Regions from separate parts of the Homo sapiens genome. Here region 1 is linked to region 2. Evidence: fine-mapped expression QTL. A gene starts in region 2. The other region holds a variant in brackets. All regions are shown on one strand. Distances are from middle to middle. Region 1 has its middle 88 kb from the start of MIR4290HG. Region 2 holds the start of GADD45G (growth arrest and DNA damage inducible gamma).

The links. PIP is the estimated chance that this variant, and not a neighbour inherited with it, causes the effect.
Region 1: its variant is fine-mapped to the expression of GADD45G in cerebellum (GTEx, PIP above 0.99).

The regions. Positions count from the first base shown.
Region 1 is chr9:90,126,390-90,131,757 of GRCh38, reverse strand. No RefSeq gene overlaps it. Among named protein-coding and RNA genes, the nearest start is that of MIR4290HG, 88 kb to the right of the region's middle. The variant C/T (reference allele first, on the strand shown) is at 2,175.
Region 2 is chr9:89,601,940-89,607,307 of GRCh38, reverse strand. It overlaps GADD45G (growth arrest and DNA damage inducible gamma), which reads right to left and starts at 2,296. Exons shown (of 4, transcript NM_006705.4): 1 at 2,134-2,296; 2 at 1,775-1,876; 3 at 1,428-1,641; 4 at 753-1,339. The coding sequence starts at 2,186. The coding sequence ends at 1,229. It overlaps LOC105376139 (a long non-coding RNA gene), which reads left to right and starts at 2,292. Exons shown (of 2, transcript XR_930105.3): 1 at 2,292-4,568. RefSeq lists a silencer at 2,927-2,976 and an enhancer at 2,587-3,485.

The DNA of each region.
Region 1 (5,368 bases), 520 kb before region 2:
AGCACGTGGCAGGGAAGGGTGGGGCATGACGTCTGATGACCGTATTTCAGAATAGAGTAGGTAAAGCTCTTAATTGCGATAAAGGTGACCCCCAAGGTTTAGATTTGTGGTGGGGACTGAGGTGAACACAGACCAAAGATGCAATTAGTCTCAGAAGTCTTATTTTGAGAAGGTGAAAGTCTAAGTTTGGGGCAGCGAGGTCTCCTCACTGGGATGGCCCTCCTCTCCTCCTCTAGGCAGACCAGGGAGGCAGGATGGAGCAGGAGGGCTGCTGCGGACACTTGCATCCTGCAGAGAAGAGTTAGTGGCTCTCGAGAGCCACCACCCTGGAACGAGGTGATTTTGATATCTCACCTACATTGTACAACGTGACAGCCACTCACCACATTTGTCTTTTTACTTTTTTTTTCCTTTTCTTTTTTTTGAGACACGGTCTAGCTCTGTCATCCAGGCAGGAGTGAAGTGACACAATCTCGGCTCACTGCAGCCTTGACCTCCCAGACTCAAGAAATCCTCCCACCTCAGCCTCCTGGGTAACTGGGACTATAGGTACATGCCACCACAGTCGGCTAATTTTGTTCATTTTTGTAGAGACAGGGTCTCACTATGCTGCCCAAGCTGGGCTTGAACTTCTGGATTCAAGCAATCTTTCCGCCTCGGCCTCCCAAAACACTGGGATTGCAGGCATAAACCACCTCACATTTAAAATAATTTCAATCCTCTGTCTCACTAGCCTCATTTTGAGCACTCACTAGTGGCACACGGTGCTAGTGGTTACCACGCTGGGCAGTGCAGAAGGGACATTTCCATCACCCCACAAAGTTACACTGGATAGCACTGCTGTAAATCTATGGGCTTCTTTATCATTCCAGGGATGTTCAGAAGTCACCTAGCTGTCCTCATTTCTCTTTTCTAATTTAAAATTGCATATGTACACTGTGGAATACTATACAGCCATAAAAAGGATGAGTTCATGTCCTTTGTAGGGACATGGATGAAGCTGGAAACCATCCTTCTCAGCAAAGTAACACAGGAACAGAAAACCAAATACCACATGTTCTCACGCATAAGTGGGAGTTGAACAATGAGAACACATGGAAACAGGGAGGGGAACATCACACACCAGGGCCTGTCGGGGGTTGGGGGTGCTAGAGGAGGGATAGCATTAGGAGAAATACCTAATGTAGATGACTGGTTGATGGGTGCAGCAAACCACCATGGCACGTGTATACCTATGTAACAAACCTGCACGTTCTGCACATGTACCCCAGAACTTAAAGTATAATAATAATAATAATAATAAAACTACTTTGCACTCATTGATTTGTTTTTCATCCCCCCTCGCTTTTCCAAGGTTGGCATGCATGCTCATGCTACTTATTTCTGACCTCTCAATCCTGGGTGCTAATGTGTCAGTTAGGCCAGGCTGCCTCCCTTCCCTCTCCTCCTTCATATGTTATCTTCATGTTGGGTTTCTCCTTCCCCGTTGTGCATGGTGTCTCCTGTGTAAATTATGCTCAGGACTGTTCTAAAAGGCCATGAAAGCAGTTCTAAAGTGAACATTTTTCACGTCCTGATGCCTGTCTCCTGATAGCTTCTCCTTCCTGTCCAAATATTAAAGTAGTTATCTGCATTCATTTCAGCTTCCTCCCAATCTGTCCTCCAGCTCTGCAGTTTGATTGAAATTCTTCTTCCAGAATTGGACAGAAACCTCAACAAGGGCAGAACTTTCCCCAGCCCTCCTGCTCCTTTCCTCCTCTGGTGACTAGGCACACACGCAGCCTCCATGGATCTCTGTTTCGTGGGTTCTCCTCCATTCTTTCTGCCTCCTTTCTTGACCTGCTGCCTCTTTTGGTCTTCTTATTGCATGGTCCCCAAAGCCTCTTTCCCTCATTTCCTGAATATTCTCTAATGGAATCCTGCCAAATCCCTGCCTTTCCCTGGATTTCACTCCTGAGCACCCAGCCAGAACTTTCCTGTTGGTTTAATCATCTGGATGTGCCAGAGTGCCACCAGCTCATATACCCTCCTCTCCATGAATCTACCTTGCATTGAATGGGCCACTCCGCAGCAATGCCAGCCTGTTTTCTCTCAGCAAACATGCCCTCTGCTCTTCTGTTTCCAGAGCCGAGCCATCTGTCCTTCAGATATGGAAGCCAGAAGATCACTTCCAT[C/T]GGCACAATGTCCACTTTACTGCTGACCATAAGACGAGTGGTCTCTGTGTTTGCTAATCTGTGTTATCAAGCTGTTCATGCATAAGGACCTCCATGATGCTAGATTCCATCCATTTGCACACAGTTTACCACTCCATTACTAGTTATCACTGCAGAAAGAACTTGGTCCAGGTTCTATTCCATCTGGAGCATAATTTTGAAAGACCTTCATATTCCCAGACAATCAGTCCTGAGGAATGAACAAATACATGCCCTCTATGGCCTGAGATGGCCACTAATAAGGGTCAACCCCACATGGCTGGCGCCTAGCTACAAAAGAAGGTCACACTAATCAAGGCCAGGTAGTGGTCAGACAGGAGGAGCCCAGCCCTTCTTGGGGAAGGACATGCAGACCTCTGGAATTAGGTCAGAGTGAGAGAACTAGATTGTGGGTTGTTATACAACCACAAATAAAGAGGAACAATTCCCAACATGTCATAAATAGCAACTGAAAACAAATATGTCAACTTCGATTTCCTGGGAAATACTGTCCTTTTTATCTGCTGTTTATTGTGTGCTCCAAAACGCTCGCCTGAAGACATTTTTAAAGGGATTTTTTTTAGAGTACTCTAAACAATGTAAAACTGAATACATTCTATATTTTCAACCCCTATGCCAATCTTCAATTGGAAAAAGCTTTCAGGTTAATCAGCAGGAATGTTCCCAATTCAACAGGCGATTCAGTGACTGTTTATATGGGTTGCTTTTTATAGCACACGGCTTACTATGTACATGGGCAGTGGGAACAGTAGTCCATACCAGGGACAGAGCATCCTGTCGCTGGCACTGAGGAGCCTCCTCCAGGAGAGGAGAAGGGCTGCTTTCCCACCTATCTCTTCATGCCTTGGGGCAGGATGTGGGATTTGAGTTGCTTCTCCATTTATGGGGACAGGTCACACCAAACTTTGTGCACCCTCTTGCCCTGCCCTGTTTGTGATTGAGGCACTGACCGGAATCATGTCCTTCATCACACCCAAACCCTTGGCACTGGGGACCTAAGAGACCCTCTGAGCCCCCTCCTTTCATGTGTGCTGGGGGGTGGGGAGGCTGCTAAACTCATTCAGAATAGAGAGGCTGAAAACCTCTCAGAATGGCACTGTGAGATCAAGCATTTAATCCTACCTCCTTCGCCCACATAGAAATCATAGGTAACACAAAAAATAAGGTAAAAACAGGCACACATAGTTTCATGGATCAGAAATGGGTCAGAAACATAGAGGGAAGCTTGAGGCCTGAGACAGCAAGCTGCAGCCTCATAGCCTTCAGAAGTGGAAAGAGACAGAGGTGTGATCTCTTACACTCCTGAGAGACAACCACACTGAAAGCACGCTGTTTGTGTGGAGGATGAGAACTAGGTGTACTGCATAAGGCTGCTGAAGCTAGCGCTGGTGACACAGGCCATACCCGGGGAGCGGAGGGCACAGGCTGCTCAGCAGACACATGCATAGTGCCAGGACCTGGCCAAGCCACTGCTACCTCGAGAACTTGATCTCAGATATACTGAGTGTCACTCCAGGACAGGAAGCTCAGGCTGTCCATACAGGAACTGTGGCCTTTATGAAGCCATAGGGATAAGGTGATGAGAGCAATAATGAAGCTTCTAAAACATCTGGGGTGATTACAGAGAAAAAACTAAAATTTCTTCTTCAAGATGCATTTGCAAAATAAAATTCTGACCACACAGCAGAAACCAACACTAACCAGGCAGCAAATACAGCAGAGTATTCACTCAAGACTAGCAAAGTAGCCCAACACAGCTGTATATTACAGCTGTAATATAATTTTTTCATATCTTCTGAAAGACAAAAGAGGGATATAGCTGCATTGAAAAATATTATGAAGGAAAGCACAGGGAACATGTGTACCTAAAAAGTAATCAATTAGAAATGTTAGAAATGGCAAATATAGTCATTGAAATTTAAAAAACTCTTGAAAGACAGTATAAACATTATCTATCATTTTTCTCTTTAAAAGAAAGAATATTCAGGCCAGGTGTGGTGGCTCACTCCTGTAATCCCAGCACTTTGGGAGGCCGAGGTGGGTGGATCACGAGGTCAGGAGATCGAGACCATCCTGGCTAACATGGTGAAACCCCATCTCTACTAAAAATTCAAAATAATTAGCTGGGCATGGTGGTGGGTGCCTGTAGTCCCAGGTACTCAGAAGGCTGATGCAGGAGAATGGCATGAATCTGGGAGGCGGAGCTTATAGTGAGCCAAGATCGCACCACTGCACTCCAGCCTGGGCAACAGAGCGAGACTCCATCTGAGGGAAAGAAAGAAAGAAAGAAAGAAAGAAAGAAAGAAAGAAAGAAAGAAAGAAAGAAAGAGAGAGAGAGAGAGAAAGGAAGGGAGGGAGGGAGGGAGGGAAGGGAGGGAATATTCAGTAAATAAGAAGATAAACTAAATAATATCTGCCTACACAGCACAGAAAGAGAAAACAGTTGAAGATATAAACTCATGTTTGAAAAACTCACTGAGAATTTTTCAGACTGGAGGAAGAAATGAATAACAAGGTAAAGAAAAATTAGCCTAGTCATATTGGGGTAAAGCAAAAGGCTATTAAAGAAAAAAAAGTTTTTAAAACTACCAGAGAAAAAAGACCCACAAAGGACTGGCAATTAGCAGATTTGTCATTAGTGGCAATAGATACCAGAAGACAATAAAATCATTTCAGTCTTAAAATCACCACTTCCAATCTAGAATTCTGTATGTTGAATAGAAAGCATTAACCAGAGAAAAATCTGTTGAACAGGAGAAGGGAAAAATGCATCAGGATTAGAGAAGAGAAACTGAGAATTAAAATACATAAATTCAAGAGAATCTAATCTTGGAAAGGGAGAGAAAAAGCAAGGAGGGAAAATAGGCGAAACTGGAGAGTGCCTCTCATTCTTTTCATCACTATAGAGATGGTCCCCAACAGCATATAGCGTCTCATGAAGCTTTATTACATATTCACGCTCTTTTTGACCTTGTAACTTGACCCTGCACCTTACTATAAAAGCATTATAATAATAATATGTCCACATGAAAATGAACCAAACAATATTTGGGAATTAAGCAGCACTCTGGAGAAAGGTCTAATTTGGAAGACGTTCATATCGTAGACCCAGAAGGAGATCATAAGGAAATGATATAATGTATGTGGCAAAAGGG
Region 2 (5,368 bases):
TTTCCTATGAGTCTTTAAACGGAATTGTGAATAGCAGCAATCCTCGTAACTCTGATGTGGGCAGAGAACACTGAAAATAGTAGATAGCAGATGCCAGGCCCCCTCAGAATTGCTCATGCCTATTTATATAGATGCTGCCTTCCAATTTTTTCTCAGATCTTCCAAGTTCTATCACAGCCATGACAAAGTAATGACTCATACTTAAATGCAGTCATCAATGTCATATTTGGTATTAGTACCTTTGTAGCATTGCTTTGTGTCAGAGCATTTAAGAGGAAAAAGTCCCCAAGAGCAGGAGCAGTCTGCCACCATCCTCAGGGACCACAAAGGGCAGGGCCTGCAGAAGGCAATGCTCATTGTGCAGGAAAGCCTGAGGCCTCCTGCAAGCTGTTCAGATAAGCAGCTGTAGGAGGGAGGGGGAGGAGGGCCGAGGAGGGGGAGGGGAGGCACAGGTCACTGTTATCGCCTTGGAAGGCAAGACTTCAGCTGCTGCACTGTCTTATCTCAAGTATGCTCCTGTTTTGCAAGTTTAAAATCTTCCTAAAAGGAGAAAAGTAGGAGCCAGGCTCAAGTTCTACCCTAGCACTGGGCAGCATGCCCTCCCTCTGCCAGAGGGGAGGAGCCTGTCATTCTTGCCCGACAGGAAGACGGAACAGGTGCCATCAGTTCCACGGAGTTCCAGCAATCCTCTGAAACCCTGCACGCCACCTCCCCCGACACAAAGATCCCCTACCCTCAATAAAGAGCATAAGTTTGTTTCAAAAAGTTTATTGTAAAATTCAAAGCTTCAACAGCAGCATCCTTTAGAAAACGAAGCATTGCCCGGATCCGTTTTGAAAAAGCAGCGCAGTCGGCTAAGTCCTTCACGCTCCTGCAACTGTACCAAGTCCAGGGCGCCGCTCCTTCCTGCCGAGCGCAGGCTGCTGAGTCACGCCTGCCCGGCCAGTCTGTCCTTCCTGGCCCTGAGGCCAACGTCCTAGCCTAGGCCTTCCTGGGCGAGCAGCCGCTCCAGACACTTGCAGAGTCCTCAGCTCGGACCAGCCTGGCCCTGCCGCCACCGGGCCCCTCCTCGGGAGGCCGCGCCTCCTCGCTCTCCAGGCGCCCCCCCCGCCTGCCAGTCTCCACGCCGCACTCGGGCACCCTCGGAGGGCCCCTCCACAGAGCCAGCCGCGCTCTAGGCGCCCCGGGGCGTCACCACGTCGATCAGACCAAGGTCCCCGCCGGGCTGTCACTCGGGGAGGGTGATGCTGGGCACCCAGTCGTTAACGCTGCGGCTCTCCTCGCAAAACAGGCTGAGCTTCTCCAAGGCGGGATCCTTCCAGGCGTCCTCGTTGGGGTTCTGCGGAGAGAGAGCAGGGTCAGCCTGGCTGGCCGCGGGCCGAGGCGGGAACGACACTGGGGCGGGGACAGGACGGGACTGTACTCACCGAAATGAGGATGCAGTGCAGGTCGCCCGGCGCACCCGCCTCCTCGCCGGCGCCCACGATAGCCGCCAGCCGCTGCACATCGCCCACGCGCACTATGTCGATGTCGTTCTCGCAGCAGAAAGCCTGGATCAGCGTAAAATGGATCTGCAGCGCGATGTCGCCCTCGTCCTCCTCACCCGCAGCCAGCACACAGAAGGTCACATTGTCGGGGTCCCTGCGAGGGCAAGGCGGGGACCTAGGTCAGAACCGGCTAGCCGAGTTCTCCCGCCGCCACCCCTCCCATCCGCCAGTCTCCTCGCCATTCACCCCCGCCCCTGTCTCCCAGCCTGGGCCGCGTCTACACTTACACGTTCAAGACTTTGGCTGACTCGTAGACGCCGGCAGTGAGGCAGCCCTGACGCTGCGCCGACAGCAGCAACTCATGCAGCGCTTTCCCGGCACCCTGCATCCTGCGGAGGAGCCAGCGCAGTGAGCGGGAGCCGGCCGGAGGGCGCGGCGGAGACCCCAGCCCCGGCCACCGGCACACACCCTTGGCTCCCCAACTCCAACCACACTCCAATCCCGGCTCAGCGCCTGCACCCCGGCTCTCCAACCGGGATCTGGCGCCCGGACCCCCGCGCTCCCCTCCTACCCCGCGGATTCCCACCCTGGAAAACCCTGACGGTCGCCGACCGACCAGCGGCTTTCTCAGCGCCCTGAAACCCACCTGGCTGTGCTTTCCGGAACTGTGTCCTGGCCGCGGACTTCTTCCAGAGTCATAGTGCGATCAACCAGCAGCTAGTTATCCACAAGCGGAGAGCGCGGAGGGGACGCGGGCGAACACACTGACAGCCAGAGCTCAGCACGGCGCGCCCACCACCAGCGAGTGCGCCCCTACTACGCTGCGCGCCCTTATATAGGCTGGTGGGTGCGGCGCCGCCAGCTGGCGCGAGGCTGCGCGCCTATTGGCCGGCACCCGCTTTCTGATGTAAATGAGGCGGCGAGCCAGCGGCTCGTGCCAGAAGGCCACGTGGGGAGGGGTGCGGGGGATGACAATGCCTCAAATCTGCCGCTTTTGTTGGGGTGTTACCAGGCAGACTGGAGCCTGCAGATTTCATCTCGCCTGGCTTTTTTTTTTTTTTGAAGTCCTTAAAAGGAAAAAGTAAAAAAAAAAAAAAAAGAAAAAACCCAACCCACAAAAACCTTGTTTGCTTATATGATGCTGCAATTTGCGAAAAGCACCTTTATAGAAGCAAAGGGATTTTTTTTTGCATTTTGTATTGCTACCTTTCTATTTGTTTCTTTTCTTTAATTTGAAGTCTATGAGACTGTTGCATTGGAGCCAGAAATTAAGGTAAAAACAGGTAGCGCCAGTTAGAGGCTTGCAAAAGGCAGTGGGCACAGCCCCCTGCAGCTGACCACTAGCGTCCCGAGCGCGCTGGTGATGCCTGCCAGGCATACTCAATGTGTACATTGAGCCGTCTCTGGAAGATCCCACCCCACCTCCCCGCCCTTGGCCGAGCGCGGCGGGGCGCGGGAGACGGGGGCGGGCGGGGACGAGCAGATTGCGGCCGGCGCACGCCGCTCGTTTGCATTTCTATGGAGGGCGCACAATAGCAGAGGTCTGGCGTGTGGCGGTTTGCTGTAGGGACAATCGAGGCTTTCTCTTCATAGCAACACTGTCCACCTGCCGCCGGGTGGGGTGGGCAGGACCCCGCCGCGCGTGGGGGTCGCCGGGCTGCCTGGCGCGTGGGGTCGAGGCTGAGTGCCACTCCGTGGTCCCTGAGTGCACGCCCCCAGTACTGGCCCTGCTACAAGTAATTCCCTTCCATCCGTTCCTCGCACGGGTGCCGAACAGCCGCGCGAGTTGGGAAGGACGGAGAGCTGCTGTGCAGTCTTCGCGGCTGGACGCCCTGTGGCCGGGACCCCGCGGCTGCAGCCCCTGGAGCTTAGGTAATGCAGCTCGGAATCTTTCCCGGGGCGCCATCTGCAGGCAGGTTAAAAAGATCCTGAACCCCTTTTGTCCTCCCCTCCCCCCAACACACACACCCTTGCATTGGCCTGGCGCGGGGGAAGGGCGGTGGAGAGGGACGGCCACGGAGCTGCCCGGCCGGGCCCAGTGAGCCCTGTCCAAGCTGCGCATAAATAGAACCCGAGTAAGGGCTGCAAAACGCATTCAGGTGGGACTGCAGTTACCCTGGGGAGTAGAGGGCAAAAGGAAATTCCCATCCAGTACTGATGGAGTAAGAGCCCCTACGTCTTATACCATGTTGAAATATCTTAATTACTTAAATGCGCATATGTAAAAAGCCTTTTTTCCGGCAATGGAATAAGTCTGGAAGAGATCTTGGGAGAGTTTAATAGGCTAGAGGTTGCTGCCGTTTGACCATACACGCTGGCACTTTCAGAGGATTCACCCACTGAGCACCTTCTGTGCTACGTGAAAAGGCGCGCTGGGGGACACCTCATTGCTTCCTTTTTTTGGGTGAAGCCTTGGAGACTGGCCAGGACAGTGGCGGGCCGGGTGGATTGGATGGAAACCCGGGCCCTGCCGCAAGACTGGGGCGATAATGGGAAAGTAAACAACGCCGTGGCTTTGTTCCTTTCATTCAGGCTTTCTTCAGGTGGGTGGTGAATGTACAAGGTACTTCTGAATTTGTTATGGGGAAGTTTCCATTCTGCGCTTGCAGGCAGGCACTTCTGCCAAGGTGAGAAGCTGGCGTCTTGCGCCCCCCAGCGGCTTCCTGGCAGAGGAGAGCTGCAAAAGCCCGGCCCTTCCTGGATTCTAAGAATGAAGAGCTTGCTCTCCTAGCATTTCTGAACTCCAGAGGTGTCTCCTAAGGACGGGGGGAGAGGGGAGGGGGAAGCGGAGCCAGGCGGCATTATGCCCCGTTTGTTCGCTAGTTTCTTTTCTTTCTTGATGTATAAAATGATGATATGCCTTGATTGGATAAAATATGTTAATTTTAAGTGATTGGAATATAGGTATTACTCTTTTAAAACTATTAAACTTTTCTTTTCTTTTCTTTTCTTTTTTGAGACGGAGTCTCGCTCGGTTGCCCAGGCTGGAGTGCGGTGGCACAATCTCGGCTCACTGCAACCTCCGCCTCCCGGGTTCAAGCGATCCTTCTGCTTCAGCCTCCCGAGTAGCTGGGACTACAGGTGCGCCACCACGCCGGGCTAATTTTTGTATTTTTAGTAGAAACAGAGTTTCACCATGTTGGCCAGGCTGGTCTCAAACTCCTGACCTCGTGATCCACCCACCTCGGCCTCCCAAAGTGCTGGGATTACAGGCATGAGCAACCGCACCCGGCCTACTATTAAACATTTCTTAAAATGTATTAGTCCCAGGTCCCCAGGACATGCTGGAAATAAGATTTACTTAACATGCTAGCACCCACCTCTCCAATTTATGACGCTAAAAATCTGCCTACATGCCAGGCCAGAGAAAACAAAGGCTAGGCCTGAAGCCTCAGCCCCTCCTCCGAGAGGAAGGCCACTAATGAACACTCCCGGCTTCGAGTTGGGGGTGGGTGCATTTCCAGTCCCTCCTGAGCTAGCCTGGACCAGAAGAGATGATTGACGACCCCTGGGGCTGTTCTACTCTGCTCACATTTTTAAAGTATTCAATTTCAGGAAACTGCCTTTTTGACATATGATACAGCCTCACTTTGCTTTGTTATGTCAGTCCCAATGGCCCCAAAGCCCCCATCTCAATTGGGAAGAACAATTTTGTCTGCAGGCAAAGGTGGCCTTCCAGCAGACCCACCACCACCCTTCAGTTCAGACACATGCTGAAGCTTCTGGGCCTGGGATGCCCCTGTGTTGAGGAGTGGGCAATGCCCACTAGAAGTTTGAGGATCCAGAATATCCCACTACACGGCTTTGTGGCCACAGCTCTCCCAAATTGCATGCAGCAAGGGACTTGGCCTGCTCTGTGCTTCAGGTCACAGGTGGCTGAG